Linked DNA regions of Homo sapiens. The protein of the gene in region 2 interacts with the protein of the main gene of each other region in a pairwise test. Each region holds a gene or a part of one and is shown on either strand. Other genes may lie near its edges.

The links.
Region 1: the proteins of SERINC1 (region 2) and MAK interact in a two-hybrid assay, tested with the Homo sapiens proteins (one large-scale study listed by BioGRID and IntAct).
Region 3: the proteins of SERINC1 (region 2) and CYP39A1 interact in a two-hybrid assay, tested with the Homo sapiens proteins (one large-scale study listed by BioGRID and IntAct).

What each region holds. Positions count from the first base shown.
Region 1 is NC_000006.12:10,792,588-10,797,601, forward strand, and holds part of MAK (serine/threonine-protein kinase MAK), read right to left. Parts: intron 3,723-5,014; coding exon 3,411-3,722; intron 1-3,410. UniProt on the Homo sapiens protein: Essential for the regulation of ciliary length and required for the long-term survival of photoreceptors. Phosphorylates FZR1 in a cell cycle-dependent manner. Plays a role in the transcriptional coactivation of AR.
Region 2 is NC_000006.12:122,444,235-122,448,226, forward strand, and holds part of SERINC1 (serine incorporator 1), read right to left. Parts: intron 3,032-3,992; coding exon 2,887-3,031; intron 2,771-2,886; coding exon 2,540-2,770; intron 946-2,539; coding exon 810-945; 3' UTR 1-809.
Region 3 is NC_000006.12:46,649,067-46,654,700, forward strand, and holds the start of CYP39A1 (24-hydroxycholesterol 7-alpha-hydroxylase), read right to left. Parts: upstream 3,753-5,634; 5' UTR 3,517-3,752; coding exon 3,340-3,516; intron 1-3,339. Other genes in the region: SLC25A27 (mitochondrial uncoupling protein 4), read left to right, coding at 4,127-4,232. UniProt on the Homo sapiens protein: A cytochrome P450 monooxygenase involved in neural cholesterol clearance through bile acid synthesis. Catalyzes 7-alpha hydroxylation of (24S)-hydroxycholesterol, a neural oxysterol that is metabolized to bile acids in the liver.

The DNA of each region.
Region 1 (5,014 bases), about 110 Mb from region 2:
AGCACACAATGAATTGGTTTTATACAAATTTACAGAAAGTGGTTTGGGGGCACATAAACAGAAAAATCCAAAAGGCAACTCAAAACTAGGGAAGAGAGCATGGAAAATTTTCAGAAAATACACCTATGTTGGGTGCAGGGAGATTCTTAAAGAATGGACATGCTATTGCTTGAAGCTGACGGTATTACAGTGATAGTGATGGATGATAACAAAAAGCAGTATTTGCCAGCTTCTCTACACTATTACTTTCTCTGCCAGGCACAACAATCTCCAGAATAAAGAGAATAAAAAAAATGTTAAGCTCCAGATGAGTAGGGTTAATAAAAGGTTACCCTTAGCTGAGTTTGAGCCTCCCTTCTGTTGAATTGTATTTTAGGGTACTGATCCTGAACACTGCTGAACAATATCAGTGATATGCAAGAATCTGGTATGGCTGAGAAGACTGGAAAGGGGCAAATATAATACTTTTAATAAAGTAGAAGATTTATTTTTGCAAACTCCACATCAGTAAGTTTGGTAGAGGATGAGGGCAAAGATTCTAAAATCAATTATTAAAGGGGATGTTTGTGAGCACTAAGGAAAAACAGTGATAGCTCATATAGACCACACTTTTTCATAAAAGGCAAACAATGAATTCATTCAGTGTAGTGTATGTGGACTTCAGCCCAGTGGGTGAAGGCAGCAAAGGGGATCAGCACATAGTTGAAGAACTTGACCAACAGTACTGACAAATGGATCAACGTCAATCTAGAGAAAGGTTCTAGTAGCCTGCCCAAGATCTCACGGTCGTTCTATTCATCATGAAGATTCAGGAGCAAAACAGACAACTAAACAAATACACAGCTGGCAACAAGCTGGGCAGAATGGGTAAACTGAGAAGAAAAAATACAGATTCAAAAATAATTAGAAATTGAAGAGGTAAGAGATCTTGCAACTTTTTGAATCCTAGAGATGAAATACACAAGTCAGAGGTACAGAATATGCAATTTAGGAGAAGCATTTGTGAAAAAACAGGTATACTTAGAAATTTTAGTTAACACAGTACTTAATCCCAGCTCTGGAACTCACCTATATAAAAATGTGTGTGTGGCGGGGCTGGGGGCTAGGTTATTCTCTTTAACTTAGAGAATGCACACAGCGTCCCTCGCATATGCATGGCACTTGGAAGCTACTCAATAAATATTAACTTCCTTTCCTTCCCTCACAATATGAGTCAACAATTGATGCATCTTCCAAGGGGTCATGGGGAGGACTGTCATCGTTGGTGGCACGAGTGCACATATGGTTTAGAATGTCGGAGGTGATTCGCCCTGCTCTATATTCCCTGCCTGCTGTCTGCCTCTAGCTCTGGCAACCTCATTCTAAGTGGAAAGCAAGATGAGAGGGGACTTAAAGACACATTCATAATAGGAACTGAGAGTTATCAGTCATTGGTGAATGGTGTTATATGCAGAGCCCTTAAGGGAATTGGAGAAGTTTCTCTAGAGAAAAGGGCAGATAATATAAGGGCTATTTTCAAATATCTAAAAGGCTGCCTTTCTAGAAAAGTGATTAGCCTTCATTAAAAGCTAGAAAACCAGATTTTACCCAGTATTAAGGAAGAACTTTCTAATATTCAGAACTGTTCCAAAGATAAAAGTGGACTCCCCAGGACCCCAGAGGTGGTTTACAAGTCATGTGGGCAATTATTCATTCCTTCATTCACTGAACAAATATCTACTGAGAATCTACCATGTGGCAGGCACTGGTCGGGGTGCTGAGGCTGTACTGATAAACACACAAACATTCCTGACCTCACTGAGCTTGCTGCATTCCAGAGGAAGAGACAAATAAACAATAAACATAAGAAGTAATTAACAGTATGTTAGAATGTGATTAGTGCTATTGGGGGACGAGGAGGCCTTGCTTATCTAGGTTGGTGGGGCAGTTGGGGACTGGAAGGAAATAGATACAGTGCTGTATAAGACCGATTTCCATCCTAAAATGCCATAATGCAAACACATTTGGGAGTGTATACCCAGTGGGACAGCTAAAATACTACAGCAACTGAAGAGCTCCTGGAGCTGAACAAAAGATGGAAGAAAAAGTTTTATACTATGCCTGACACTTTAAAAACCTATTCTGGCCAGGTGCGGTGGCTCAGGCCTGTAATCCAAGCACTTTGGGAGGCCAAGGAGGGTGGATCACCTGAGGTCAGGAGTTCAAGACCAGCCGGACCAACATGGAGAAACCCCATCTCTACTAAAAATACAAAATTAGCTGGGCATGGTGGCACATGCCTGTAATCCGAGCTACTCAGGAGGCTGAGGCAGGAGGATTGCTTGAACCTGGGAGGTGGAGGTTGTGGTGAGCTGAGATCACACCATTGCACTCCAGCCTGGGCAACAAGAGCAAAACTCTGTCTCAAAATAATAATAATAATAATAATAAATAAAAACCCATTCTCTCCATGTTCCTTAGCATTTAAGAACACTGTAAAATGAAAGTACTGTTAAAAATTCTTAAGATTTAGGATCAGTACTCTGGAGTACCCGATTCTTTTAAATTCTTTCTTTGAATTCTTCTGCATTGAAAGAATTTTAGGCCGGGCTTGGTGGCTCACGCCTGTAATCCCAGCACTTTGGGAGGCCGAGATGGGTGGATCATCTGAGGTCAGGAGTTCGAGACCAGCCTGGCCAACATGGTCTCCACTAAAAATACAAAAATTAGCTGGGTGTGGTGGTGGGTGCCTATAATCCCAGCCACTCAGGAAGCTGAGGCAAGAGAACTGCTTGAACCTGGGAGGTGGAGGTTGCAGTGAGCCAAGATCGTGCCATTGCACTCCAGCCTGGGCAAATAGAGTGAAACTCCGTCTCAAGAAATAAAAAAGAAAAGCCCAGGTGCAGTGGCTCATGCCTGTAATCCCAGAACTTTGGGAGGCCAAGGCGGGTGTATCACTTGCAGTCAGGAACTCAAGACCAGCCTGGACAACATGGTGAAACCCCATCTCTACTAAAAATACAAAAAAATATCCAGGCGTGGTGGTGGGCGTCTGTAATCCCAGCTACTTGGGAGGCTGAGGCAGGAGAATCGCTTGAACCCAGGAGTCAGAGATTGCAGTGAGCTAAGGTCGTGCCACTGCACTCCAGCCTAGGCAACAAAAGCGAACCTCCGTCTCAAAAAAAGAAAAAGAAAAAAGACTGAAGACTGTAGCATGTAAACTTGGTTACTTTTATCCTGAAAGTTTTTCTTTTTATAAACCATATTAGAATTTTAAGTGATCTCATGTCAAGCTCCAACCAGAGGACTCAGGGTCTTTAACAAAGAAAAATCTTTTATATCTTTTCCAACATTATTAGAAATGCCTCGAAAAAAATCTTAATTGCACGAGTCAAACTATTTCATTGCAAGTGTCATGACTGGCTACTCACAGTTGGCATGTTTTTGACGATGCTCGGGAATAGCGTTTGTGGCGGTTTCTCCTGACTCTGTTGCTTTGGAGGTTGCTGGACGCTCAGGTTCTGTGGCGGCTGAATGGGCTGCAGTGGCTGCTGGCTAGTTTTTGGCTGGGGTTGTCCAACAACCTGATCGATTATATCCGGCAGAGGCTTAGGCTCTACCTCAACTAAAGATGGCTTTGATTCTAATGGTTGCAGCTGCTTATTTAAAGACTGTTTTGATTCCAGATGATTTGACGAAGGGCCTAATACCTGACCAACTTGAAAATATGGGTGTTTCAATGCCTATAAAAACACAGAGAAAACAACAAATGGAAAACAGTTCCACCTAAATGTATTGCACATAAACTATGGTTGGCCCTGTGCGAGGCATTTATCATTAGCCCACATGAGCTTCAAAGATTTAGAAAGCAGCCATCATTCCCTATACAGTGCCTCTTTTAAAAGATAACCAGAAAAAAATGATTTGAGAAATAAATTGCATTAAAAAATTAAAAGTGGCTGGGCATGGTGGCTCACGCCTATAATCCTAGCACTTTGGGAGGATGAGGTGGGAGGATCACTTGCGGTCAGGAGTTCAAGACCAGCCCGACCAACATGGTGAAACCCAGTCTCTACTAAAAATACAAAAATTAGCCAGGCGTGTTGGTGGATGCCTGTAACCCCAGTTATACGGGAGGGTGAGGCATGAGAATCGCTTGAACCTGGGAGGAGGAGATTGTAGTGAGCCAAGATTGTGCCACTGCACTTCAACCTAGGCAACACAGCGAGACTCCACCTCAAAAAAAAAAAAAAAAAAGTACTAGTAGGAAAAAATAGAAAGCTCACTTGTTATTATAACATCTAAGCAAAACAGCTGTTCTATTTATTTAAAGATTTGTTAGTGAAAATAAAATGTAATTTATAGACATTGGCTAAATTAATGTGATTACTTCAAGCTAAAATACTACACACCAATAATGGTTTAGAGTACACTCAAAGACATTAAAAAGTGAATTAAGAAAATCTTCCATATAGATTATTTGAAATGATTAACCAGAGCTGTATGTAAAATTCCGGGTTACTCTCAGCCTGAGTACAACAATATACCTACTAGTAATAAAAAAAAAATCTAAAGAGGGGACAACAAACACATACTGTTGAAGTTTATTTCATCGGTATACCAGCAAAGAGAAGACATTTATGGGAAGAAAATATAAAAATATTATGAAAAATGATCACTGTTTGAGTTTTATCTAGATCAGTCACCTGACTGCTTGCATGAGAGGGAAAGGACCCCCTGGTGTATGGGTGGCACCATCTAATAGCAGTGCTTCCCAAATGGAGGCAAGTTTGCCCCTTGGGAGATATCTGGCAATGTCTGGAGACATTTCTTATTATAATGACAGGGGTTGGGGGACGCTACTAGTGTCTAGTGTCTAGAGGGCCAGGGACATTGCTAACTATCCCATAATGCACACAATAGCACCCCACAGCAAAGAGTTATCTGGTTCACAACGTCAGTAAGGCTAAAACCGAAAAAATATTCTACAGAATGTCTAAAGCCTGTGTAGCTCAGCTATGGAAAAATTCCCTTA
Region 2 (3,992 bases):
CCTCAGCCTCCCAAAGTGCTGGGATTACAAGGGTGAGCTACCGTGCTGGCCCAAAACTAACTTTCAAAGTGACTTTCAAACACTTCCTTCTAACCCATGATTATCCTTTTCAAAACCTTGTCTAAATCCTTCAGAGTTCCAAACATTTCCACTGAACCCATACTTCATGAGTTTAAAACAACCAAAACAGTTCACTTTGTTGGCAAAGGCCATCTCTACCCAAGTAAGATTATTTACTCGTTATTCAATTTAGTACCGACACCTCCATCCATAACCTACACTATTGTCCACTAAACACTCCCTACCTGTGTAAATTCCGTATCAAGGGTAAAACCTTATAAGATTTTTCAGACAACTGGCATTTAAGTGACTTGTTTATAAATTTTAAAATAAACCATGTTCTTTGCAGTATCCTGCCAGGCAACACATCAAATATTTCAAAAGGCAGCCATACATTTGCTTTAATGCTTGCTAAAACAGCTTAAGGTCTAATATAATTTTAAAATAGTCAAACAAATTTGTTTTTACTCTTCATTTCACAACTATAGAGCAGAGAATAAGCCCAATAATGGCCACTTTTACTAACTCATCACCATATTCATAAAACTTTCCTCTGCAATTCATTCTACTTCACATATCAATGCACTTGGTAAGAAAATAACAAAATGACAAGCAGTAAAATCTAATTCATGCCAGAACACTGGAGAAGTTACATGGGAAGCAAAAACATACACAACTTTACAAAAGTTGGGAATACTGTTTTCAAATAAGCAATAATCAAAGTGGGACTTTCATGCTAGAAGTCTCACTCAGTCAAAATCACGATTTGTAAGAACAAGTGGTGCCACGAGTGTCCAAACATACAGCACGATGCCAATCCAACTGGAAGAGATTTTCACCCAGACAGCTGTCCACTGACTTTTCATCTCACGAGAGGGTTCATACCTAAAATTTCAGGGAAAATTATTAAAAAGGGGCAAGGGGGTTGAATTATCAGCCACCAAGCTATGAAGCTTCATTAATTCAGAAGCGTGCTTTGTATACAGTTTGTGATTTCAGATATATCATTGCTGCATCTAATCTGCTCCCTTTCTTTCCACACTGCTAGTGTGAAGGTAAAAATCTGTTATTTCCTTTAATGGAGTAAAGTATACAGGCCTCTGAAATAGTTATTTTGCATAATCTCTGAAGCACTTTATGCATGTCTGCCATGTTATTAGACAGAAGAGGAACTGAATGTGACCTCTGGATAAATGAGATGTCACTATTACATAAGATTGTTCAAGATGTATATGGAACTCCTCACCTGATTTCCACTCCCCCAACCCCCTCCCCCGCCCCTCCCTTCTCAGAATTAAGAGACTGGTATGACTCAGAGATATCTCCTTAAAAAAAGAAAGAATTAAGAGACTGGGAAGGAAATATATCTCAAGTTTAAGTGATTTTTGAGTTAATGAAATATACCAAAATCCTTCTGGTATAAAGCCTTAATATCTACTATTATGTGACAGCCAAGGATCTGAGTTAAGAACCAGCTGGTACTCGGGAGGCTGAGGCAGGAGAATGGCGTGAACCTGGGAGACAGCTTGCAGTGAGCTGAGATCAAGCCACTGCACTCCAGCCTGGGTGACAGAGCAAGACTCCATTTCAAAAAAAAAAAAAAAAAGAACCAGCTGGATTCTTATAGCTTAATACGCTACAGTGTAAGAATTAAAAAATATATATACTTTTCAATAATAAAAATCAGTAAAGGCTGCACTCAAAGACATACAACAAAGAATAATCTTTTTCCTCCATCTTTTGCTGATACTGAGAGCCGCCTTACAATTTGTTTATTAATATTATGCATTAAAAAGTTATTAAAAACAGAACTTCCCAAACCACATAGTTCAATTTGAATCTTTGACCAAATCTTTCAGTAATCATTTGGACAAAACCAGAACTTTCAAAAATGAAACACTATAAATCACTATCTTCCTTTTAACAGAAAAAGATTTATGGATTAAGTTTGAAGTGATTAAAAAAAAAAGTAGCTTGTAAGAATTCTAAGCTTGTAGAATTTGTAGAAATTGTTGCTTGTAGAAAGAATTCTAAGCTTGTAAAAATTGTGGCTTGTAAGAATTCTAAGAATCTATCTACATTAATGAATTCATACTTAAATTTAAAAATTTTCAGAGCTTTTAATGACAGTTCAAACAAAAGAGAAAAAAGGATGTATCCTTTACTTCACTATCTTTACAGAATTGAAAAAAAAAATGTTAGATCCACTATCAACATGGATTTTTGTAAAAAGTATTAGTTTCATGAAAATTTTTATTTTAATCTCTCCAAGATTTGGAACTATTTCAATGTTTGTGTTACTGTTAAAGCAAGGAAGTAAAGACTGCATTTCTCATGCTGATCTCACTATTCATTTAGCTGTACATTTTGAAATATATCAGAGGATAAAAAGTACTTCATATCACATCATGGTTTCACAAGAGAATCATAAAATGCCATCAGAATTCACACATCCAGAGTTTTCATGAAATATAAATACCTGTACCAGTTGGTAAGGGTCATCATGATATAAAGTGAAGCCAGGAAAAGCATGAAGTGAAAGAAGGAATAACTGTAAGTGACACCATCCCTTTCATTATCTACAGCTCGGTGAACATCGTCCCCATCCTCCAGTGATCCATCACTTCTAGCTCCACCATCTTCTATTAATGTAGATTCATCACTTGTTAGAGTCAGTTTATTAACCTGACTATTGTTTGAAGTACGGATGCTGTATGAAAGAGAGTTTAGGAGGAGAGAAAAAAAAGAACATTTTTAAAAGAAATGATTCATAAATAAACAGCTAGACTTCTTGTTTAAAGAAAAAAATTCCATAGTTTTTCCTACCTGGAATAAAATACACACAACAAAAAGAGAATTAGTCCTATAATTCCTTGAGCATGCCACCACTGGACTGACTGCCCTTCCTTTGGGACAGTGCTTGTTGTATTGTAGCCAATTATGCTTAGTAGACTTGGGTTGCAATTTGTTTCTGTAATATAAAGCCAAATTAAAATGTTAGAATATATTAAAAAGATGTTTTTCAGAGCAAACAAAAGTTATTTTTAACTCTCTATACCCCTGCAAATTGAGAAACAATTGCTGGAAAAGGCATCAGTATAACAAAAATAATTGAAGAAAACTTGCACTTATTAATAAGACCTTTGAAGTGTTAATAGTTCTGATTTTATAGAAGTACCTGGAAAAGTTAAATCATTTAATTTTCAACAACATGTGATAGCTGAGAGATAATTACCTCTACAATCAGGAAAGAGGTGAAATATAGATGAACTTTCTAAGGTTAGTATAATTCTAGTAGATTTAGAAAGAAAATTCAGAGATTATAAACCACAATGCACTGGCTTTTCTATCATATGTTGAGATTATGATACAGACTTTATGAAGCTTATCAATTTGATACAGCACATTGTTAAAAAACCAAGACAGCTTACACAAAAACCAGTTATAAGGACTCCAGCAAATGCCTCATGGAAATTACCCAATAAAGTATAATGACCTACTGCTTACTCAAGTCTTATTCTTTTATAAAGAAGAAAGTAGGCAAGGTGCGGTGGCTCATGCCTGTAATCCCAGCACTTTGGGAGGCCGAGGCGGGCGGATCACAAGGTCAAGAGATAGAGATCATCCTGGCCAACATGGTGAAACCGCTTCTCTACTAAAAATACAAAAATCAGCTGGGCGTGGTGGCATGTGCCTGTAGTCCCAGCTACTCGGGAGGCTGAGGCAGAAAGACTCGAACCCGGGAGGCGGTTGCAGTGAGCCGAGATCATGCCACTGCATTCCAGCCTAACGACAGAGCGAGACTCTGTCTCAAAAAAAAAAAAAAAAAGTAGGATTGCTAAAATATTCACTAAAGTGTCTAAAATACATATTTTTCTCCTGCAAAGCCAGATCTGTCAAACTCCATCTTACTAATGAAAATGATTCTTACC
Region 3 (5,634 bases), about 76 Mb from region 2:
TTGTAACAGAATTTCGTAACTAAAGATTGGGTTCTAGCCATCTCAAGGCTCAACTCAGGTAGTCGTATTCACTACCCAGCTGACACGGTTGGTGGCAGAATTTAGTTTTTCACAGGCTACTGGATTGAAGACTTTTGATTTTTACTGGGGTTGGCCAGGGCCTCCCTCTATTTTTTGCCTTGTAGGCCTCTCTATAATGACAGCTTTCATCATCAAAGAGTGCAAACTAGGAAGGCAATTGAGTCTGCTATCAAGATGAAAGCCTAATCACAGAAGTAACATCAGATCACTTGTGCCATATTGTGTTCATTAGAGGTGAGTCACTAGGTTTTGTTGACACTCAAAAGGAAGTGATTACACAAGGGAATCGTTGCAAGATCATTGCAGGTTATCTTAGAAATCTGACTACCATATGTCTATCGATGAGGAAACTTATTAAATAAATGTAGCCATATCCATGCATCTTCAAAGAATTAGGAGTTCTATATGGTACTAATATGTAAAGAGTAAATCCCTACTGACATAGGAACAGTGTGAATAATATGACACATTTTGCTTATAAGGCGGAAAATAAAAATCTATAATTCTATTTGCTTGTATACAGTTAAAGAAACTATGAAACAATATATAAGAAATGAATTACAGTTGCCAAGGTTGGGAGTGAGGAGTGAGAACTGGGTGGAAGGGAAAAAGAGGTTGAAGGGACTTTCCCCGTAGTTTTTATATTTACAATTTTTTGAACCGTATAAATGCATGATCTATTCAAAGATTAAATAAAAATAATGGGAAGATGTTTTTGTGGTCACCAAAGTTGTCTCTTCTCAGTCTTCTAGAGGAGCATGAGAAGCTGAGAGTGTTAGCTAATGATGGAGTTTTAGAAGTTTTTTCTTGAAGGTTCAATACGCCATAAGTAGTGTCTTATGCAGGTGCCATTTAGATGCAATTTCGCATCAAGTCTACTGAGTACCTGTTGCAGCCACTGCGAAAACTCAGAATGGACCCCCACCCAAGATCTGGTTTGGATGTTAAGACAATTACTACATTTACACACACACACACACACACACACACACATACACACATACACACCTTGAGAGGGTATGAAGAGGTTTATTTCATACACAATGAGACTTCTCTGGGGAAAGAAGGGCAGTCCTCTCAAGCTGATCTGAAAATGACTTGAGAAAACAGTGAAAAGAGACAGGTCTTAGGGTTTCATTGTGGTTAGGGGGTAGGCTGGTGTGAGCCTTCCTGCATGAAGGTTGAGGTTTGTGTGATTTGAATCTCCCCTGGCACCAAAGGTGGGAGCACTCTGGCTTTTTTTTTTATCATACTGCCCAGATTAAGGGTACAAGAAAAGACAAGAGTGAACCTTAAAAGCTTTTAGTAGTAAAACATCAAATAATGCAGTCATATTCTTTTTTTTTTTTTTTTTTTTTTTTTTTTTTTTTTTAAGAGACAAGGTCTCGCTCTGTTGCCCAGGCTCGAGTGCAGTGGCTCAATCATAGCTTACCGGAATCTGGAACTCCTGAGCTCAAGCAATCCTCCCGCCTCAGCCTCTCGAGGAGCTGGGACTACAGGCATGTGCCACTGGACCAGATTAAATTTTTTATTTTTCTATTTAGTTTTTGTAGAAATGAGGTCTTGCTATATCTCCCGGGCTGGTCTTAAATTCCTGGCCTCAAGCAATCCTCCCACCCCTGCCTCCCAAAGTGTTGGGATTACAGGTGTGAGACACAGAGTCCAGCAATAACTTGTTTTGTTTAGTCAGGAAAGCAATAGAGACCTCACAAATATTTAGCCTTCTGACACAAGCTTGTAAAAAAACAGTTCCTTAAAAATTATCAAGATCATATGCATAAGGAAGGCTGTGGGAGACAAAGGAGTATTTCTTTAGGAGATATAATGTTTCATCTATCAGACTAGCAAAAATTGCAAAGAATTATGGTATTCAGTATGGCCCAGGATTTGAGAAGTTAGGCAATTGCATACAGTCAATGGAAAATAAAAATTGCATATTCATACTTCTTTTTCCAAAAGTAACACATTCATATAAACAATTTAAGTGTGCATGTCCTTTGACTCAGCAATTCTACTCCTAGGAATTTATTCTGAGTAAACAATCAGATAATTGCAAAATGTACAACCACACAATCAATACATGCACACAAACACGCAAGAATGTTCACTGAAGCACTGGCTGAAAGAAAAAAGTTTGGCAGCAACCTATAAACCCAACTATTGAGATTTAAGTAAACTATTGTATCCTCCTATGACAAAATATAGCCATAAAAGGAAGATTCAAAGTATTTCATGGTACAGGAAAGTCATTCACATTATATGTTAAAATCAAAAGCACATAAAAGAGTATTATACTATTATTCCATTGTTGTTCATTAAATAGTTGTAAATACATAGGAAAATGACCAAAATAATATAAATACACTAAATTTTTACAGTACAGCTGGTGTGATATTCTGGGTTATTTTTATTTTCATCTTAGTTCTCTTTAATTTTCTATATGTTTTTTACTAAATTGGAATCTCAGAGATTTTGAAGGCAAATGATCAGTGGTAAAATAATGCTACTACGTATAAATTCATTCTACAAATTGGGCTAACCAGATGGAAAATGGGTCACCACAGAAAGTATTATAATTCATAAGAATAATTATAATATCATACAAATTTATTAGACAATCAAATACCATAAAATATTTGTGACTGGAAATTGAATAAAACTTAAAAGACATTAATAAAGGTCTGTTCCTTAAAGTGCTCAGACATTTAAAAGATACTTTCAAGACAAAAACATCTACTACAAGGAGGATTACTAGTCTCTTCAGGCCGTAGTGAAAATGGAGTACATCATCATCAAATAACAACGTCAGCTAAAAATACAGAGCCTGTTTATTGTGTACGGACCAACTGTGCAAGCAATTTGTACAATACTTTGGTGTTAACTCCAATTTGGATACGAATTACTCATTTTCACAAACTTAAATTGGATTACACTTTATCTTTCCCAATTACTGAAAACATTTACTTAACACATACACATTTGGAACTTAACTTCGATGAAGTAAAAATACGAAAAGTTAATCTCTACTTCCAAAAATGTCGATGCACGCTGCAATTGTATTTCATTTCTTTCGCAAAATTTTGCACAGGATATTGTTGTTAATTGTTAGTAGAGGAATTCAGAAATGACTAGATCCTTTAGTTGAGGCAAGCAGGTATGTTCCCCGTGTTCTAGCCCTGCACTTAAGAGTCAATGAAAGAAAGTTTAAAAAAGAAAGCATTGTCTCCTCTGGAGACCCCGTCTGCCACGACCACATACCTTGATTCTTGCTTTCTCTATAAATTCTAGAGGGGCTTTCCCAAACTCAAATCCAACTCCAATCCAAGGAATCCAGCCCTTGATGCACGGGGGTCTACGCAAATTCTTCCGCTGAAGGAGTAAGAACAGAGCAAGGCAACCCAGGATTATAATCACTGTTGGGGAAATTAGTTCCATGTTTTTGTCCAGCACCTTCCAGAAGCAGAAAAGTGTGAAACAGTCCTGCCGTCCCTTGCTTCTTTTCTGTGGGCTACGGAACCTGTCGGGACTCCCAACCTTTCTGCTGCAACTTTTGCAGCTCTCCTTCGTAACTGTAGCTTCCTTCCTCTGTCCCAGTTTTCAGGTGATTTTTCCATTGTCGCTCCCTCCCACCTCCACTTCTCTTTGAATCTCAGCCAGCGCGGAAAAAATGCAAGGAGGGGCAGGGCCGGGCTAGGACTGACGGGCGAGAACCAGCCGCGTTGCCATGGAGGCCGGGGGCGGAGCCGCAGAGGGACCCGCGGCCGGCCAATCAGAGACGTAGCGGAGCCCGGCGGACTACATTGCCCAGTAACCTCCTGGGCTCCGCTGTGTTTTTCTATTCTGGGGTGTAAGGGGCAGCTGGACCACTCCAGCTGGGACTGCTAGGAAGGTTGCGGGTCCACCCGGCCGAGCCGAACGAGGGAAATGGTCCTCACCCGGCCACTCGCCGGTTGAAAAGGGGCCGCCCTGGCAGGGAAGCGGCCGCCGCGGCGCGGTGCAGCGCAGCGGCGAGAAGGAGTGCGTTATCGTCTTGCGCTACTGCTGAATGTCCGTCCCGGAGGAGGAGGAGAGGCTTTTGCCGCTGACCCAGAGATGGCCCCGAGCGAGCAAATTCCTACTGTCCGGCTGCGCGGCTACCGTGGCCGAGCTAGGTACCCGGCTGCCCACGCCTGGGCCTCCCGGGCCAGTGGCACGCGCCGCGCTGGGGGAGGGTGCGCGGGCGGCTTCGCGCCCGGCAGTGCGCATCGGAGAGGTCGCCCCTTCCATGCCCGCCTGGCAGAGGTGGCGGTGGAGGCCAGGCCCGCGGTGGGAGGAGGAGGGATTGAGGTCTCCACGGCCTTTTCCTTCTAATCTCTTCTAATGCTTCCCTTAGGCATGTGCTGTGGTGCTTGAATGTTGTACTTTAAGAAGCTTCGCGAGCTGTCATTCCTCTGTAGGAATCATTTTCCTTTTCATGAGGATGACCTTTTTAAAAACGTAATCTGTTTTCCATCCTTACTGAGATCATCTCTGTGGTTTATAGTCTTACACAGCCACACTGTCATTATCTTGTGGGTCCAAGTTGTGGACCTACCTTGTGGGACTTCCGTTATTAACCTGCCACTCACAGAGCATCGACTACTTGACCTCTTTGAGTGTAATTCATCTATACTGTTTACCTTGCAGGATTCTGAGAAGTCAATAATATATGATTGCTAAACCCAAGGCAGGACACCCATTAGTTGCGACATTTTTATAATTCCTACAATACCAGGGACTGTGGATATATATTTGAAAAGACCCAGTTCTGACCTTCTTACAGGCTGCTGGGGAGACAGAGAAAGACAATTATAATGTGCTACTTGTTATAATGAAGATATTATTAGGTGTCATAAAAGCATAGAAGAGCAGTTACATCTGCCTACATGAGTAAGAAAAAACTTTAAGAGGCCATCTAGAGTGGAATGATGATGCCCTTGAATGAGCAAGTAGCGTTTATTCCAAGGATTTTGTGAGTAGTATACTCATGTGTTTCCTGTGAAGCCTTAACTGTGTATTTTAAGATTACCCTTACATTTTCTTGCCTGTTACAAAAAAATAAAAAGAACAGTTCTGATGCGTTATCATTTGTAAATGTTAGTTGGTCCTATTTTAAGAGTTTATTTTTTAATTCTAGCATAGCCAGCCATGATCAGTTGTTTCGTGCTCTTCCATTTTTGCCTTTTAGCCCCTCTATTTTTTAATGTCTCTCCTTTCGAAAATGATGGAGAATTTTTACTTTTCATTGTTTTTACTGAAATAAAATTCATCAGCTTAAAAAGATCTAAAAGCAGATTGCTGAATGATATTTCCAGGTTTTATTTTTAATTGATGTGTCCCCCTCTGACTCAATGGCTTTTATACAGGACTATTCCTCGTTAAAAATTCATGGAGAGAATTGTGTGTGGAGAATGGATGGGAATCAAAATGTGGGATGGTTTTAAGTACAAACCACTTCAGGAACCTGAAGCATCATTTAACAAACCAGCGAGAAAACAAAACTTATTTTGAAAGACATAATCTGTGTAATATGGA